Homo sapiens: one gene and its partner. The protein of the gene in region 1 interacts with the protein of each later gene in a biochemical or structural test. Each region holds a gene or a part of one and is shown on either strand. Other genes may lie near its edges.

Region 1 (4,498 bases):
ACATGACCCTTTGGGAATTAACTGGAGTTCTTGTATTCCCTCATCTGTAAAATAGACATTATATTATCCACCCCACTGGATTGTTGTGAGGGTTGGATGAAATGATGCATGTAAACAGCTTAGTTAAGAGTTGGGTACAATCAGTGAACAAATGATTATGAATTAGTGCTTTTATTGTAGTCAGAATCATAAAGATTTGACAGGTTCCCATATCCCACCTCTGCTTGGACTACCTCATTTGCTCATATGCAAACATTATTTGGTACCTACTGTGTGTGCACCATGGGATGGGCCTGCCTCTGTGGAAAGTTCTTGGGTGCAGGGGGAGACAGCCATGGGCACTGATGACATCAGGTAGTTATCGTGAGTTTTGGCGGTGTCCAGAGCAAAGGGATGGTGGCGTATATACCAAGTGTGTTCTGGTGTGGGGGTGGACACGCACCAGGGCTAGGGCTGCAGAGAATGTCTGTGTTGCAGATCTAGGTTTCTCCATGATCATCGGTGGGAATGTGTTTTGTCTGCAAGTGTATGCTCATATGAGTTTCCCTGGGTCTCTGTGTGTCAGTGTGTTACCTGTGTGTGTGGGGGTATGGGTGTATGCATGCATGTATGTAACATGCCCATGTGTGTTACTCTGGACTTGTATGTCTGTATGTATACCTAGATTGGCGTGTGTTCTGTCTGTACATGCCCTCGTATGTTTCCTCACTTTTGTGTGTGTTTATATGTGTGTCATTTCTTGTGTGCCTCCAGGCCCCCCTTGCCACCTTGGGCAAGGGTGTGTACACCACCCAAGTGTCCACCTCCGCTTGTCTGATGCTGTCTGTGACGCCCCCGCTCTCTGCCTAGCTGAGCCTGTGTGGATGTGGGAGACTAATCTCCCCGCGGGCACTGCGTGTGACCTCACCCCCCTCTGTGAGGGGGTTATTTCTCTACTTTCGTGTCTCTGAGTGTGCTTCCAGTGCCCCCCTCCCCCCAAAAAATGCCTTCTGAGTTGAATATCAACACTACAAACCGAGTATCTGCAGAGGGCCCTGCGTATGAGTGCAAGTGGGTTTTAGGACCAGGATGAGGCGGGGTGGGGGTGCCTACCTGACGACCGACCCCGACCCACTGGACAAGCACCCAACCCCCATTCCCCAAATTGCGCATCCCCTATCAGAGAGGGGGAGGGGAAACAGGATGCGGCGAGGCGCGTGCGCACTGCCAGCTTCAGCACCGCGGACAGTGCCTTCGCCCCCGCCTGGCGGCGCGCGCCACCGCCGCCTCAGCACTGAAGGCGCGCTGACGTCACTCGCCGGTCCCCCGCAAACTCCCCTTCCCGGCCACCTTGGTCGCGTCCGCGCCGCCGCCGGCCCAGCCGGACCGCACCACGCGAGGCGCGAGATAGGGGGGCACGGGCGCGACCATCTGCGCTGCGGCGCCGGCGACTCAGCGCTGCCTCAGTCTGCGGTGGGCAGCGGAGGAGTCGTGTCGTGCCTGAGAGCGCAGCTGTGCTCCTGGGCACCGCGCAGTCCGCCCCCGCGGCTCCTGGCCAGACCACCCCTAGGACCCCCTGCCCCAAGTCGCAGCCATGAACTACCTGCGGCGCCGCCTGTCGGACAGCAACTTTATGGCCAATCTGCCAAATGGGTACATGACAGACCTGCAGCGTCCGCAGCCGCCCCCACCGCCGCCCGGTGCCCACAGCCCCGGAGCCACGCCCGGTCCCGGGACCGCCACTGCCGAGAGGTCCTCCGGGGTCGCCCCAGCGGCCTCTCCGGCCGCCCCTAGCCCCGGGTCCTCGGGGGGCGGTGGCTTCTTCTCGTCGCTGTCCAACGCGGTCAAGCAGACCACGGCGGCGGCAGCTGCCACCTTCAGCGAGCAGGTGGGCGGCGGCTCTGGGGGCGCAGGCCGCGGGGGAGCCGCCTCCAGGGTGCTGCTGGTCATCGACGAGCCGCACACCGACTGGTAAGCCACTGCCGCGGACGTCTCCCGTGGGCCTGGGTCCCCAGATCGTTCTTCTGCGAATGAGCAATTATCGAGCGCCGCTTGTGTGCCTGACACCTGGCCCTCTCACCTAAATCTTTTTCCTTTAAATTATTAAGCTGGATGCTTCCTCTGTGCCCCGCCCTTGTCGCCCCCCTCCGCCCCTTAAACCTTGATGGATCCAGGGAGCAATTATCAGGCACCTGCTGCGTACCTGTTCCCTACTACCCCTCCCCCAAAAGTCTTTGGCTTCAATATATCCTATGAGCCTTCGAAAACCGAACGTGTCCTTCCTACCCTCCCCAACCCTTGCCCCATAGGCCTTGTCCTCTAATGGATCTTGTGAGCACTTATCTAGTACCTGCAGTATGCCTCATCCAAGAGCCCTTCCCCAAGGCCTTTGATTTCAATGAGGTTTGTGAGCATTCTTTGAGAGCCTGATACTGTCCTGTTCTCCTCAACCCTTGCCCTGAGGCCTTCTCTAATGGGTCTTGTGAGCATGTGTCCAGTCTATGCTATGTGTCCCACCCCAGCTCCGTCCTTAAAGCCCTTTTAAACTATTTAGTAAACATTGAGTACCTGCTGTGTATCCCACCCCAGCTTCTCTCCAAAAGCTTTGCCTTTCATGGATCCTGTGAGTTTTGATTGGATGCCTTCTCTGTGCCCCAACTCCAAGCCCTCTCTCTGAGGGCCTTTTCTCCAAAGGATCTAGGAAGCATTTGTTAAGTGCCTGATACGTGCCGCACCCCCAAACCCCTTCTCAAACAAATCATTTTCCTCCAGTGAGTTCCATGAGCAGTTTTGAACCTTCTTTGTGTGACTCATCTTCAGACCGTCTCCTCAAAGACCTTTCCCTACAGTGGATCTAGAAAACATTTATTGAGTGCCTCTTGTATCCCCCGTTCTCCAGCTACTTCTTCAAAGACCTTTCCTTTGGTGGATCCATCTAGCATTTATCAACTGCCTGCAGTGTGAGCCTTCTCTAAAAGTTCTTTCCTCCAGTGTATTCAGCAAGCATGCATTGACTGGTGCCTGCTGTATACCCCACCCTCAAACCCTTTCTGCAATACCCTTTCCTCCAGTGGCTTCAGTCTGCATGTATTGAGCACTTTCTGCATGACCCAACCTTAGACCTCTCCATAAAGGCCTGTGCCTCCAGTTAATACAGTGCTCAGATATCTGGCACTTGCTGTGTGTACCATTCCAGTCACTCTTTCCAAAGACCTTTTCTTTTAATCACTCCTTGGAGTATTTATGGAGCACCTGCTGTGTACCTGATTGTGTGCCTTCTTCACAAAAGCCTTTTCTCCTATGGATGAAGAATCGAGCTCCCATAGATCAACTTTCTGCACTCCCATTTCCCCTCCCCATAGGACTTTTCCTTCAGGGATGCAGTGAGCCTTGATCAGGTGACTATATGTCCATCCCCAGCCCCACTCCCCAAAGGCCTTTTCTTCTAATGGATCCAGTGAGCATTTATTCCTTGTCTGTCATGTGCTCCATTTTAATCATCCTCCCCCAAAGACCTTTTCTTCCAATGGCTCCCCTGAGCATTTATGGAGTGTCTTCTGTGTGTTCTGTATATTCACACCTCCTCCCCAGAATTGTTTTCTTAACAGTAGATCCAGTGAGCACATATGCAGGACCTGTTGTTTTGGGGAGTACATTCTTCTTCCTTACCCCTAGGAGAGCCTGTTCCAATCACAAGGCCTCTCCCAAGGTCCTTTCCTGTGATAAATCCAGAGCTGAGTTTATAATGATCACCCCTTTCCCACTCCCTTCAGTACCCCTAGGATTCCCTCTACCAACTTTAATTCATACCCCCAAAGGGCTTTTAGTCTATTTAAGTAACACTTACTTAAGTAAACACTTTTACTTAATAGTTTTACTATTGACTTAATTTACTAAATAAATTTAGTAAATTTACTAAATTTACTATTTACTTAATAGTTTTACTATTTAAGTAAACACTTATTGAGCACTTACTGTATAAGTCACTTTCAACTTCCTCTTTCCAAGTCTCTGGAAATCCCTGACCCTGCCTCAAGAGCTCTCTCTCTAGGGGTCTACTTCAGCCTAAATGTATTGAGTACCAGCTGTTTACTGGTTAGATTACCTCTCCCCCAGGAGCCTTTACCGAGTAGCCTTTCTCTCCATTCAGAGCAATTTATTCATTCTGCAGATATTTATTGCATCCTTTCCATGAAAGTGTGGGAGGCATTTATTATGCACCATTATATACTAGGAATAACCCTTCTTCAGCTCCCCTTCCTTCTTTTTTTTCTAAATGCAGGTGTGCTTGAAATCCTCACCTGCCAGCTGGCCTTGCTATACCTTTTCCTCCATGCAACCCCACAATCATTTAATGAGCATTTATCGTATACTACTGAGAACCCTGCGTTAAATGCCTCTTCTCCCCTTTTTGTAGTCCCAATTCCCCCTTCAACAATCTCCATCCTGCCTTTTACACAACACAATCCTGAAAGCTCACAATGTGCACTGTTTTCCATTTATTCTAGCTAGGCCTCTT
Region 2 (3,813 bases), on another chromosome or scaffold:
GGAAAAGCCTCCGCCAGGTCTTTAGTAGTAAGTGCCCAGATGAGAAGGCATATGGCTGGTGGGGAGCCTAGTGTTGGGGTATATACCCCCAGTTGGTGAATTCCAGTATGGGTTTGGGGCAGCAAAAAAACTGGAAGATGTCACGGGGAGGGCTGGAGGGTGGGGCGCCACAAAGTTCATCTTCTGTGGGTGGGCGTGATAGGAGCCCATGTACGGGAGGTCTGAGGGGTACTTGTACAGAGATGACTCCGGGGGGTGGGGCTGGAGGGCCTGGGCGATCCCGTGGAAGTCGAACTTGTAGGCGTAGCGCTTCCCATGGACCTTGGTCATGATGTTCTTGTCATAGTAGTAACGGAGGGCGCGGCTGAGCTTATCGTAGTTCATGTTGGGTTTGCTCTTCCGCTCTCCCCAGCGCCGGGCCACCTCGTCGGGATCCGTCATCTTGAACTCCCCGTTGGTGCCTTCCCAGGTGATGCAGCTGGAGTTGGAGCTGTCCGACAGGAGCTCCAGGAGGAACTGCCAAAGCTGGATCTGGCCACTGCCTAATGAGGTCAGGAGAGGAAGGAAAACTCCAGTGAGCACAGGTTCCAGGGGAAAGAGGCTCTCTGTGATGACGGAAGGAGGTGCTATTGGTGTGCCGCCCACATTCCCTTCACCAGGCCTGTCCGTCCATCCCTCAGCTGCAGGGGTGCGGACTGCTCTCGTTCCATGGCCACCCACTTCTCCAGAGAACTGCCCTTGCCTGAACAGAGCCGCCGCCTCGCCCACCCCCAGGTATCCCACAGCTGGGTGGACTGAACGGGGTACCACGGGCCGGCCCCCTTGCCTCAAGGAAAGACCAACTCCATGACGCTATTCAGGCTTCAGGGCTCCCGTGGGATTGGGCTGAAACAGCGTCCAGCTGCAAGGAGGCTTGGAGGAGGCCAGAAACTTCCTTAGCGCTGCCCCTGCAGCACTTCCCATTCTCTCTCTCCTGAGAACATGCCGTTAATCAGTCACCTGCACAAGCAGGCTTACCCCAAGCTCTGCATCAAGGGAACCCGACCTAGGACGATGATCTAACAGATTCAAGACCTAGATGGAATGCAGCGAATTCATATGGGGCAAAGTTCAGGCTGCTTCCATCCATTTCTGACGTCCTTAAAAGAACAGCCAGATCAACCTGGTGTTTAGGGGATGAAAGAGCTATATATTTTTTTTTCCTATTTTGTGAAGCACAAAGTACTGTTATGTGGATGGCAATAATGACTTAATGCCATTTATATTGGCTAGGTCAAGTAAGATAATAAAAGTTAGATTTAGGAAATGAACTTCTAAAAGTTTATGGAAAAAAATCGAGAATGGAAGTAAACACCATTATTTCTAACATAACATTTTGCTGGCGCTCAGAAAGCAATTCTGTGAAAACTTTTCCTAGAACAGAATTAACCCACTCAAAATGAGGAAGTTTAGGAAAAAAAAAAAAAAAGCTGGCTCTTTTTCAAACCAGATCACCCAGTTCCAGTATTTGGGCAAGCGCATCGTAACGGAAACCAGTGCCTTGCCTGTGTGCTGCAACGCCAATTGTGTTAAGCAGCATTTCCAGAAGAAAAACCCCAACAATGAGTGATTGCAAGTCCCCTTGGGAAGCTGAATGAGACTCTTCCTTTGTCAAAGAGATCACATTTAGCTGGGTGGACAAAGTCAGAATTTTCTTGATTTCATTGAAATCATACAGATACAGCTTTGTTTTATGAAATTCAAAGAAAAATCTAGGCACATCATTCTAGCTGCTATGTTACAATACTTGAAGATAGTTTATGGCTCCCTAGAAGACAGCAGCATGTAAATATTGACAGCAGTATCCGTACCAAGAGAAGCTAAGCTGTGCTGAACATATTTCAGAAGCTTAAGAACAGATGGGAGGTGGGTCTTTCCTCCCAAATTCCAGTTACAGCACTGCCTTAGACTTATTACCAAAAGATTACCTTTTATTATAGTGTAAGTAATATCAATCGATGTGATAAAATGATTAAAGTAACTTTAACTGACATCTACTCAGGGAAGTAATATACTGTAAAAATCAATTTTACGTTCATTTTCTTCTAAATCCTCGCTAGCCTCCTGTACATATCACCCAACTTATAAACTCTGCTTTGCATGTTGGCTACATGGACATGGATATTTTTGTGAATTTATCCATACAATAGCACTGTGAGAAAGGTCAGCTTTTTCTGAATCTATGCTGGAAAGTGCTCATTTTCAGTCTAGCAACACATTTGAAATGTATTAACAGCTTGTAGCTCATTGAAGTGGAAGCCTTTGCTTTTTCAGAACCACATATACAAACTGTTCCCAATCAAGTTTTGTTGCCTCCAACATTTTATTAATATGCATTTAGAAAATACAAAGAATGGTATGAGAAAACCATATGGTCTTAGTATATATATTGTAACCAAAAAATTACAACTTGAAAAAATTCCGTATATGACCTGGGAATAGGAAAAGGCATGGATTTTTGATTTAACAGTCTAACAGATGCTTCAATATAAACACATACGGTTGTTTGAAAATAAATATTCAGCGTCAACTTTCTCCCATAGAGAAAGCAACTCCACAGACCTGCCGAAATCACACTTGGAATCTACTCAAACCTTGGCATTGCCTCTTAGCAATTTGTCCCTCACCCATTTCTCTTATAAACGTGTGTAGGACAGAATCAGTGGACAAAAGTGATCTCATGTCTCTCCTATTTCTGAAGAGTTAGAAAGCAGGGGACCTAAATTTGTGGCAGCAAACTCTATGCCCAAAGGATGGATGAGCTAATTTCTCACTTGACTATTTTACCCAGTAGCCATAAAGACATAGGGCTCAGGACTGTGAGAATTTCAAGGGAGGGTCTATAGAAATAAGAGAACTGTAAGCAAAATTCATCAGCTTTCAAACCTTGAAAGAAACCTGGAAATGCAAAATCAATGAATGTTTAAGTAAATGGTAGAAAGAGTAACATCATGTCAAACTCATTAATTGTTAAATTTAATATTTGTAACAAAATTCGCTGCATTTTGCAGTGTGTAGAACAAAATTTCTCACTGCAAGAATTCTCAAAAATGAACAATGGTTGTTAAAAAATTGTCAGTGGTAAAGGAATTATTCTCAGTCATAAAATTTTAAGAGCAATTTTTAAATTCTTATTTTACTTCCAAAACAATAACATTTAATGTGTGACGAGGTGCATTTTAGAATATAGAATAGAGATTTCCAAACAAGAATGCTTAGGGTTTAGGAAAGCCTAAAAGTGGCTTGGGTCACTCATGGGCCAAACCAGGATTTACAAAGAGAAGTTCTTGAAAGACAAGAGCTTTCATTGAGTAGCATCACCACCTCTACCTTAGGACTCACCTTTCTTGGGTAAACCCTTCAGATCTATTTTTTTTTTTTACTCTCTCTTAATAACATCCTTGCGATGTCAGTAAGGAGGAACTAATTTTTTCTTAGGGTAATTACCAAAATAAAACATATTTGGAGGTAAAAAACAGTGGCAAGCAGCATTGTCCACCTACAGAGAACCCTGTGGGTGAAAGGGAGCGGCTGTGGCTTTTAAGAAGACAGAGGCACTCCTTTAATTTTACAGAGGAAAGTAATCTCCTAATATTGTTAAAAGAAAGGGAGAGAAACAGGGTAGCAAAGGGGTACAGACTGAGCAAAAAAGGGGGAAAAAAAAACTAAACGGTTTACAAACCACAGAGCAAAGCAGAGAGCTGCAGAGTGAGTCAGCAGCTGTGTCTGGTGGAAACAGCATCCTGGTGCAAAGCCCTGCAGCCGTCAGCTGAT

What was found.
Region 2: the proteins of SYN1 (region 1) and ERG form a complex in vitro, tested with the Homo sapiens proteins (one large-scale study listed by BioGRID).

Annotation. Positions count from the first base shown.
Region 1 is NC_000023.11:47,616,804-47,621,301, reverse strand, and holds the start of SYN1 (synapsin-1), read left to right. Parts: upstream 1-1,444; 5' UTR 1,445-1,573; coding exon 1,574-1,950; intron 1,951-4,498. UniProt on the Homo sapiens protein: Neuronal phosphoprotein that coats synaptic vesicles, and binds to the cytoskeleton. Acts as a regulator of synaptic vesicles trafficking, involved in the control of neurotransmitter release at the pre-synaptic terminal.
Region 2 is NC_000021.9:38,383,382-38,387,194, forward strand, and holds part of ERG (transcriptional regulator ERG), read right to left. Parts: intron 543-3,813; coding exon 22-542; 3' UTR 1-21. UniProt on the Homo sapiens protein: Transcriptional regulator. May participate in transcriptional regulation through the recruitment of SETDB1 histone methyltransferase and subsequent modification of local chromatin structure.